Linked DNA regions of Homo sapiens: region 2 is linked to region 1. A link means that fine-mapping ties the variant in region 1 to the expression of a gene that starts in the linked region. Tissue or cell type: iPS cells. Region 1 holds a variant in brackets; the other region holds the start of a gene. All regions are shown on one strand. Distances are from middle to middle.

The links.
Region 2: it holds the start of TRDN, and the variant in region 1 is fine-mapped to the expression of TRDN in iPS cells (PhLiPS, PIP 0.95).

What each region holds. Positions count from the first base shown.
Region 1 is chr6:123,583,187-123,588,567 of GRCh38, forward strand. All of the region lies in intron 1 of TRDN (triadin), which reads right to left. Among named protein-coding and RNA genes, the nearest start is that of TRDN, 51 kb to the right of the region's middle. The variant C/G (reference allele first, on the strand shown) is at 2,160.
Region 2 is chr6:123,634,418-123,639,798 of GRCh38, forward strand. It overlaps TRDN (triadin), which reads right to left and starts at 2,533. Exons shown (of 41, transcript NM_006073.4): 1 at 2,337-2,533. The coding sequence starts at 2,358. All of the region lies in intron 1 of LOC105377981 (a long non-coding RNA gene), which reads left to right.

The DNA.
Region 1 (5,381 bases):
CTGTGATGGCTTGGAGAAACTGTAAACCGGCAGTGTAAACAATAGCAGGGCATGTATGAGTAGTTGAGAACGGTGAATAGGAGTATGACTAGACAGAAGATAGTAGGGATGACAAGTTTTTGGGGGGCACAGTCTAAGTTCTGGTGTCTGGAATGAGACTGGGGCCTAATAAAAAGGAACGTCTATACAGGAGCTCAAATGGGCTGTACCTTGTAGTATTCTGAGGACAGGTCTGACTTCTGAGAAGGGAAAGTCATAAAAGTATTATCCAGTCCTTTTTAAGTTGGTGGCTGAGCTTGGTGAGGTGTGTTTTTAAAAGACCTTTAGTCTGTTCTACTTTTCCTGAAGATGGAGGACCGTAAGGGATATAAAGGTTTCACTGAATACTAGGAGCCTGAAAAACTGCTTGGCTGATTTGACTAATAAAAGCTTGTCTGTTATCAGACTGTATTGAGGTAGGAAGGCTAAACTGAGGAATTATGTCTGACAGAAGGGAAAAAATGACTGTGGTGGCCTTCTCAGACCCTGTAGGAAAGGACTCTACCTATCCAGTGAAAGTGTCTACCTAGACTAACAGGTATTTTAGTTATCTGACTCCGGGCATGTTGAGTAAAGCTAATTTGCCAGTCCTGGGTGGGGCCAAATCCTCAAGCTTGATGTGTAGGGAAGGGAGGGGGCCTGAATAATCCCTGAGGAGTGGTAGAATAGTAGATGGAACACTGAGAAGTTATTTCCTTGAGGATAGATTTCCACGATGGAAAGGAAATGAGAGGTTCAAAGAGGCGGGATAGTGGCTTGTACTATAGCATAGCCTGCCTTTGCTGGTGTGTGGCGATTAGGCCTAGTGGAACTGCCATCAATAAATCAAGCGTGATCAGGGTGAGGAACAGGAAAGAAGGAAATATGGGGAAATGGGGTGAATGTCAGGAGGATCAGACAGATACAGTCATGGAGGTCGGGTGTGGTATCAGGAATAATGTGGGAGGCTGGATTGAAGTCCGGGCCAGGAACAATGGTAATTGTGGGACTTAACAAAGAGTGAGTACAGCTGAAGGAGCCGGGGAGCAGAAAGTATATGCGTCAGATATGAGGAAGAAAATAGATTTTGGAAGTTATGAGAAATGTAGAGAGTAAGTTGAGCATAGTTTGTGATTTTGACGGCCTCTAAAAGTATTAGGGTGGCAGCAGCCGCTGCACGGAGACATGATGCCTAGGCTAAAACAGTAAGGTCAAGTTGTTTGGACAGAAAGGCTACAGGGTGCGGTCCTGGCTCTTGTGTAAGAATTCTGACCGCACTAACCATGCCTAGGAAGGAAAGGAGTTGTTGTTTTGTAAGGGATTGAGGTTTGGGAGATTAATCGGACACGATCAGCAGGGAACGCACGTGTGTTTTTATGAGATTATGCCGAGATAGGTAACAGATGAGGATGAAATTTGGGCTTGACTGAAGTAATGGGGGCTGTCTGTGAAGCCTTGCGGCAGTACAGCCTAGGTAATTTGCTGAGCCTAGTGGGTGTCAGGGTCAGTCCAAGTGAAAGCCAAGAGAGGCTGGGATGAAGGGTGGAAAGGAATAGTAAAGAAAGCATGTTTGAGATCCAGAACAGAATAATGGATTGTGGAGGGAGGTATTGAGGATAGGAGAGTATATGGATTTGGAACCACGGGGTGGATAGGCAAAACAATTTGGTTGATAAGGCGCAGATCCTGAACTAACTTGTAAGGCTTGTCTGGTTTTAGGACAGGTAAAATGGGGGAATTGTAAGGAGAGTTTATAGGCTTTAAATGGCCATGCTGTAGCAGGCAAGTGATAACAGGCTTTAATCCTTTCAAAGCATGCTGTGGGATGGGATATTGGCATTGATTGGAGTAAGGGTGATTAGGTTTTAATGAGATGGTAAGGGGTGCATGATCGGTTGCCAAGGAGGGAGTAGAGGTATCTTATACTTGTGGGTTAAGGTGGGGGAATACAAGAGGAGCACGCAAAGGAGGCTTTGGATTGGGAAGAAGGGCAGCAATGAGATGTAGCTGTAATCCAGGAATAGTCAGGGAAGCAGATAATTTAGTTAAAGTGTCTCGGCCTAATAGGGAACTGGGCAGGTGGGGATAATTAAAAGGAGTGCTTAAAAGAGTATTGTCTAATTTGGCACCAGAGTTGGGGA[C/G]TTTTAAGAGGTTTAGAAGCCTGGCCATCAATACCCACAACAGTTATGGAGGCAAGGGAAACAGGCCCTTGAAAAGAAGGTAATGTGGAGTGAGTAGCCTTGGTATTGATTAAGATGGGGACAGACTTATCCTTCACTGTTAGAGTTACCCGAAGCTCGGCATCCATGATGGTCTAGGGGGCTTCCGAGGCGATTGGGCAGCGTCAGTCTTCAGCCGCTAAGCCAAGAAGATCTGGGAAGGAGTCTGAGAGCCTTGGGCCAGAGTTCCAGGGGCTCTGGGAGTGGCTGCCGGGTGAGTTGGACAGTCCGATTTCCAGTGGGGTTCCGTACAGATGGGACGTGGCTTAGGAGGAATCCTGGGCTGCAGGCATTCCTTGGCCTGGTGGCCAGATTTCTGGCACTTGTAGCAAGCTCCTGGGGGAGGAGGTTCTGGAGGAACGCCTGCCCGCTGTGGTTCAGGCATTTGGAAGTTCTTGTGTGCTGGAGATGTGGCTGGGGTTTGTCTCACAGTGGAGGCAAGGAATTGCAACTTTTTTCTATTATTGTACACCTTGAAGGCGAGGTTGATTAAATCCTGTTGTGGGGTTTGAGGGCCAGAATTTAATTTTTGGAGTTTTATTTAATGTCGGGAGCAGATTGGGTAATAAAATGTATTTTGAGAATAAGACGGCCTTTTGACCTTTTAGGGTCTAGGGCTGTAAAGTGTCTCAGGGTTGCTGCCAAACGAGTCATGAACTGGGCTGGGTTTTTCATATTTGATGAAAGAGTCTAAATGCTCACTGATTTGGGAGAGGTCTGATAAAGAAAAAGGAGCATTAACCTTGACTATGCCTTTAGCTTCAGCCACCTTTTTAAGAGTAAATTGCTGGGCAGGTGAGGGCTAGTCACGGAATGAAACTGTAAGCCGGACCGGGTGTGAGGAGGGGAGATGATAAAAGGATTATAGGGTGGAGGACCGGAGGCTGAGGAAGAATTGGGACCTAGCTCGGCCTGGCGAGGAGGGGAGAGGTCAGATGTGTCTGTAGAAAAGGAAGAGTAGAAAGACTCAGTGATGCTTGGGGTTGGGACTGAGGGGACAGGTGGGAGGGAAAGGAGGAAGATTTGGGATGAGTTGCATTGGGAACAGAGACTATAGAGGGACTGATGTGTAAAAGAATGCCTGGATGTCAGGCACCTCAGACCATTTGCCCATTTTACAACAAGAATTATTTAGATCTTGAAGGATGGAAAAATTGAAAGTGCCGTTTTCTGGCTATTTGGAACTACTGTCGAGTTTGTATTGGGGTCAAGCGGCATTGCAGAAGAAAATAAGACACTTAGATTTTAGGTTAGATGAGAGTTGAAGAGGTTTTAAGTTCTTAAGAACACAGACTAAGGGAGAAGAAGGAGGAATGGAGGGTGGAAGGTTGCCCATAGTGAAGGAGACAAACCCAGAGAAAAGAGAGAGTAGAGACATGGAGGGAAGGGGTTTGGGGGTTCTTACCCTCCAGAAAAGCGGGAAAGGGGTCGGGGCACAGAGATACAAGGTCAGGGCATGGAAATAAGGGATTGGGGTGCAGAGATATAAGAGGTTAGGGCACAGAAATAATGGATTGGGGTACAGCGATATAAGAGGTTGGGGCACGGAAATAAGGGATGGGGGCACAGAGATATGAGGTTGGGGTACTTGCCCCTCCTCTAGAAAAGCGGGACTTGCTGCTCAGGGTGAAGGAAAAGGGGTTGGGGGTTTCTTGCCCCCCAGAAAGGTGGAAAAGAGGTAGAGACACAGAGAGAAGGGGTTGGGGTACTTGCCCCTTCCCCAGAAAAGCGGGACTTGCCACTAAGGATGAAGGACCAAGGCAGGCGTCCCTGCGTGGTCTGACACCTCTGAAACCTGGACGAATAATCAGAGAGGTGTCCCTCCAATGATTAAACACCAAGGGAAGGCTGCCTTCCCTAGTCCATGACTGGCGCCAGAGTTTTGGGTCCACGGATAAAACGTGTCTCCTTTGTCTCTACCAGAAAATGAAAGGAATTGAAATTAAGAGAAGGAAGAGATTGAAGAGTGGAAAGGAGAAAGTGGTTGAGGGACAGTGAGAGAGGTTGGAGAAGAGAGTAAGAAGAGTCTGCTTACCCGATTTAAAATTGGTGAGATGTTCCTTGGGCTGGTCGGTCTGAGGACCTGAGGTCGTAAGTGGATCTTTCTCACGGAGCAAAGAACAGGAGGACAGGGGATTGATCTCCCAAGGGAGGTCCCCTGATCTGAGTCGCGGCACCAAATTTCATGTGCGTCCGTGTGAAGAGACCACCAACAGGCTTTGTGTGAGCAATAAAGCTGTTTATTTCACCTGGGTGCAGGTGGGCTGAGTCCAAAAAGAGAGTCAGTGAAGGGAGATAGGGGTGGAGCTGTTTTATAGGATTTGGGTAGGTAAAGCAAAAGGGGGGGTTGTTCTCTGGCAGGCAGGAGTGGGGGTCACAAGGTACTCAGTGGGGGAGCTTTTGAGCCAGGATGAGCCAGGAGAAGGAATTTCACAAGACAATGTCATCAGTTAAGGCAGGAACAGGCCATTTTCACTTCTTTTGTGGTGGAATGTTATCAGTTAAGGCAGGAACTGTCGATCTGGATGTGTACGTGCAGGTCACAGGGGATATGATGGCTTAGCTTGGGCTCAGAGGCCTGACAATGGAGATCAAGTTTCTTATTATGTAAGTGAAGCCTTCAGGTAGCAGGCTTCAGAGAGAATAGATGGCAAATGTCTCTTATCAGACCCCAAAAGGTGCTAGACTCTCAGTTACTCTCTCCTGCATCAGGACAAGATCTGGAAAGGGAGGGAAATTCTCTACAGAATGTAGATTTTCCGCAAGAGACAGCCTAATAAGGCCATTTCAAAATATGTCAAATATATTTTGGGGTACAATATTTTTATTTCTTGTAGGGTCTGCTATCTGTCACATGATGCTATACTAGTCAAGTTGGAATCTGGTATCTTATTGCTACAAAGAGTCTGTTTCGCAACTCTTAAAAATCTCTGTTTTAATGTTAATGCTGGCAAGTTGCACCTGAATTCCAAAGGGAAGGAGATATAAGGAGACATGTCTGACACCTCCTTCCCATCATGGCCTGAACTAGTTTTTCAGGTTTACTTTGGAGTTCCCTGGGCAGAGAGGAAGGAGCCATTCAGTAAGTTGGGGATTTAGAGTTTTATTTTTACTTTACAAAATGAATAAAAATCCTGATCATCA
Region 2 (5,381 bases), 51 kb after region 1:
GTGACAGAGAAAAATTCTGCTCTAAAAAAAATAAAATAAATAAATAAATGGTTGAAAAAAATATAGCAGATGAGATAAAATAAGACTATTTCAGGCTCAGAAAATAGCCTGTACCAAGGCACTGTACAAAGGTATACCTTTTATAAAAGACTGGAGGAAGACAATTGTAGCTAGGGCACAAAAGGTGAGAATTGCAAAGATAACATGAAACTGTGTAGTAACAAAGTGTGAAAAAACTTTGGATATCATCAAAGAATGACTGTGCTTCCTTAAAAGATGAGTTCATTTGAGTTGGCAGTCTAATTTTCATTTGAGAAATATTATTAATAAATCATTCCAGAAAACAAAAAAAAATGCATAATTGATGTTCAGATAACATAGATCCTATGAACTGTTAAGGCCCGGAAGTGGAAAATGACCATCACCCAAGAATTAGATGGTATTTCTACTTTTTAATTTTATTACTAATGTAATTATTTTTATGGGTAACTCCAGAAGGTCTTCCAAGGCCCTTTTAAACCCCCGCAGAGCAAAGGCAGAAACAAAAGCTCTATTTCATAATCAAGAATTTTCCTGTAAAAAGTCTTTTGAATCAAATGCAAGTTCTACAAAACATAATCCACAAGCAAGCCCAAGATGGTTTAGTCAACTGACCTCCTGAATCACCTGGGAGCCCAAACCCTGAACAGAGGTAGAGAAACAGAAGATTAAGACGCTCGTAGCTATCTTAATAACTTGTGCAGAGCTAAACAAGAAGTTTTTATACATAGCTTTCTTTAAGGCAAACTAAAAGCAACATGACACAGAATATCTAAGGAATAGGAAAAATGCTATTTATATTTAGTTAGCAAATTCTGAACTAAAATTGGTAAAGAGTAAACCTGATATCCTCTCACAGAAAAGAAAACACACACACACACACACACACACACACAAACAAGATTTAAAGGGGCTGGGTTTAAATGTTGGTAATGCTGGTCTTGAGCAAGTCACATAACATTTTAGTTACAGTTCCTTTTTCTGCCAAACTGAGATAATAATGCCTACTTAATTGAATTGTGTCAGTTTTAAATAAGTAAACACACATAACGTTCTGAGCAAAATACCTAACACATAGAAATCTCTCAGTAATTGTTATTAATACGAGGTGTCAGACTGAATTTCTCAGTGCAAGGTACAAATAAGGCACTTCTTATAAATATTGACTAAAAATCTCCAACAGAAATTACTGTGTGTCCATACTAATTTCTACCCTCAAAAATAAAAACAAATATTCTATTTTTCAGTTGTATTATTCAAAGCAAACCAGCACAGCATTTAACTTGGAAGTTGTTAAGAGCACCACCTGTCTGATTTTCTTACAGCTGTCAGAAGCAAATTTTAGATCCACCTCCAAAAGTTTTACCTCAACTAGAACCAGACTGTGTCTGTATTCAAAGTAATTTAGTTTTGAAGGTTTCCTTCATTCTAAGAAATACGTACATATATATATGAAGTATATATGAAATATAAATATATATAACTAGCAACCATCAAATAGAAGATATGTATTATAGTATGTAGCTTTCAGTAAAGCATTGAAACAGAAAATATTTATTGTAACATAAAGATAGAATTTACCATTTAGAGGAAAATGAAGAATGAATTTACAAAAAGAACCAGAATTCTAACACTTAATTGCTTTATTTTAAAAATCATACTGATTCACAGTAAGTTTGTGGAATTCCAGTCTTTATCTCTGAATTTCCATTAATGGTCAAATAAATACAAATTTTATGGGAACACTTATGTCTTAAATTGTATATAAATCATATATATGTATGTGTGTTTTACATACCCTAGTAGGAAAGGAAAAACAAATTTAAGGTCTCCATTTAAAAATATCATAAAGCAGAAATGCTTCAAATTACTTTTTAAGTTTAAGTAAGCATTAGTGTAATATTTTAAGTAAGCATTAGTGTAATATTTTAAGTTCATCATGGTCTCCATCCTTGAAAACTTTGTAATTTTTGCTGGATAAGATATCGGCCATCATGTTACATGACCATAGCTATTTATAGAGGTGTGAGTAACAACTGTTAACTAGTGGGGCCTTTGGTATAGCAGAGAACAGTTTCCACATGCAAAATTTAAGAGAAATCTCTTTTTGCTCCCCCAATATACAGATCTGGCAGCCTCTCAGCTCCTAAATCCACTTCTCAGATCCTGTATAGAATCATTGACCAAGGCAATTACCTTAAAGCAACATTTTAAATGGACACATCGACAGTTAATGTGGCTGTCGATTTGCATATTTTTTTTCCTTACTTGATACTATCGGAAAATGGTAGCAATACCTTCAGCAGTGATCTCAGTCATGGTGGTCGTCAAAAGTAAAAGTCAGTTGAAAAGTTCCCGTCAAGTTGCACTTTGCAGAGTATTTGGGGATTTGAGAACTCTGGTGGAGGGTTCTGTGTCAAAACCTGGGGGCTCTTCGTTTTCCTGGCTGTTTCTGCTGCTTCTTTGTTGTCCTGTTGAACTTTGCCTCTCCTCTGCAGAGTTCTCCCCCTGGAAACAACCTAAGCCCTTTCCAAGCAGCACTTGTGGCTCAGCTAGAAGTATCAGCTTCAAACAAAAATAGCCTCATCTCCCTAGGACTCTTCAGCACTTTTTTTTTTCTTTTTTGGCACTCTAGAGGAACACACACACAGACACACCAGCTCTTCAGCCCCAAAGAGAGAAAGGCAAAAAACAAACAAACAAACAAAAAAAACCAAATGAACTACAAAGTACCATCTAAGCCCCCGCAGTTTCTCTAAGATAATTACAGATCCTGGGGTCTATGTCAGAAAACATGAAATAAAGAGTTGAAAGTAATCTTATCCGTGAGAGCTCAGATTTATTCTTAGTGCTCTTAATGCTCAGAACATTCTTCTTTCCCTTATTTGGTTTGGGGAGGGTCCCAAATGTCTATCACAGGCAAAAGGGAGGGTAGTCTTGAGTAATTTTCTAGAAGTTATGTTCCTGTTGATACAAATCCACTTAGCAAGTGCAGTTATTTATATAGGGCTACACTTAAAATTGCAACTATTAAATCTTGAAGCTTTCTTTTAAAGTAGTCATATTGTAGAAGATTAATATTTTCTGAACACTGGCCAATAAGAATTATGTAATGTGAATTTATAGTGTGATACTTGAAAAACATTGGATTGATGAATTACTATCTTTTTAATTCTCTCTACTACCTTACTAAGAACTAAATACCTGCATTTATCCATGCAGTAAAAAGGAAGGGAAGGTGACATAAAGTTTAGTAGTCCACAGCCAATATTTAAGTAAAGTATTTCCTTATCTCAACTTAAAAAAAAAAGGATTATAGCAGCCACTAACAATTAACCAAATTGGCTGATTAGCATTTCACCTTCCCACTCCTAGACAGGTGTTAATGAGCAAAAAAATATTCAATAGTTGGTAGTTGGAAGCAAAAGGAGAATCGAAGGGCATTGATAATCATAAACTCTAGCCAATCTGTGAATAATCAAGGGTTGACTACACTTTTATTTTATTCTCATATTCAACCTAATAAATGCTTGTAGTTTAATCTTTTAGCTTGAACTTGATACTTTTCGTTTTCAGACCTCCCGAATTCCTATGGTACTTCATAGATCATGAAGCAAAGCCATGTTTGTTATTTTTAAAATTCAGGCTCAGAAGAGTGCTGCAACAGCTATTTCCATAGGCAATGACCTCCTCCCTGTTAGTGGTTCTGTCTTAATCTACTGCCCCCATTCCTGACACAATAGAAAGTTGCTCATTTACCAGCTGAATACATAAATTAGTAACAAATCTTAATTTACAAGGAGGAAATGATTACATGATTACATTCATGATTTTATTCAATTCCTATATCTAGGACTGGGCCTAGAGCCTTTTAACTACAAGTTTGCTATCTTCCCCAAGAAATGAGGCCTTGTTGCAGATACTATGACTTAAGGTAAAGGGGGTCACTGCAAATTAGGCCCACTAGCGGGATGAAAAGATACAAAATCCTCAAGAGCAGCTTCCCAGAGCTCTGGGTTGGTCTAAGGAGGTATCCTAAGAGAAAAGCCCTCCTTACATTGCCCCCCACAAAGAATCTCCAGTCAATAGTGCCACAGCAGTTCCAATTGTTTTGAAAAACGTAGCACTTCATATCTCCATTCATCAGTTACTTTCATAATCTTTCATTGTAGTTAACTGAAGGAATGACATCTTATGTAACTCATTAAGAATTTTCATGGGTCAGATCCTAAATAAAATTAGGCTCTGGAACAGGAAAAAACTCAACTTTTCAAACTAGTTTTACTCAATAAAAAGTTAAAATAAGACTCTAGAAAAGAAATACTAAATTCCTAGTATTGATGTTAGTCTTAAGTTCCCAATCACTATTTTCATGTTAAACATACTGGAAGGAAAAATAAAAGAAAACATATTCTAGACAATAAACATGTTTTGAAGATAATAGCTTTTTCAAACCTTTCTGTGAGATGAGTTGATGAATGTCATTAGGCAGTGAGAAATTGGCATGGTTCTCATTTTGAAAAGTTATTAGGACTCTTTCAATTTATCTGAAACTCCATTCATGAGGTATGTCTTTGAATTCCAAATGGAACCCTGCCAAGCTTTCTGAAACCAAGCAACTGACATTCTTACAAGTGTGTACACCTACTCTTCAGGGAACTCAAAGAATAAAACATTACAAACGATTCATTTGCCCTTCTTTATTTTTAAAGGGTCTTCATTTTTAAAGAGATGTTACCAGTTCATTGAGCTCTTTCAAAAGGACCCAAAAGTGATATTTCTCTCTTCTCAGCAATAGCTCCTGGAATAACTCTCACATCCCACTTCTGCACAATCAGCACAGGTAGACTTGTCATAGTTTTGCATACAGGGATATTTATAAAATTAGGACATTAATAACTGAGCTAGTCTATATAAGTAAATGATAAACTGTGAAAATTTGTTCTCCTATTAATGTCGCATTTAGGTCAAGGGGCATCTCCAACCTGATTATACTGATCATTACCCCTTGTAATATTCACTAGTTATTCTAAATACTCAAGTTAGTAGATAAAAATATTCTCCCTTAGAGAAATTTTTAAACCTTGCTCCTGTGTCTGCTATTATCATAAACACTCAATAAGACATGTATTCTATTTAGCTATGAGCAAAATACTGTCATCCACACCAAGTTTCAAAATGGCAAAATATTTGGGAGGCAATCAGAGAAGTTTTGTTGATTTGTTTCCACCATAATAAAATAAAATTAATTTTTTAAAAAAAGTCAAACCATACTGCATTACCTCTTTCAGTGCTGATTTGTTTTCTCTATGATGTGCAAAAAGAGACATAGTTGGGTGTAG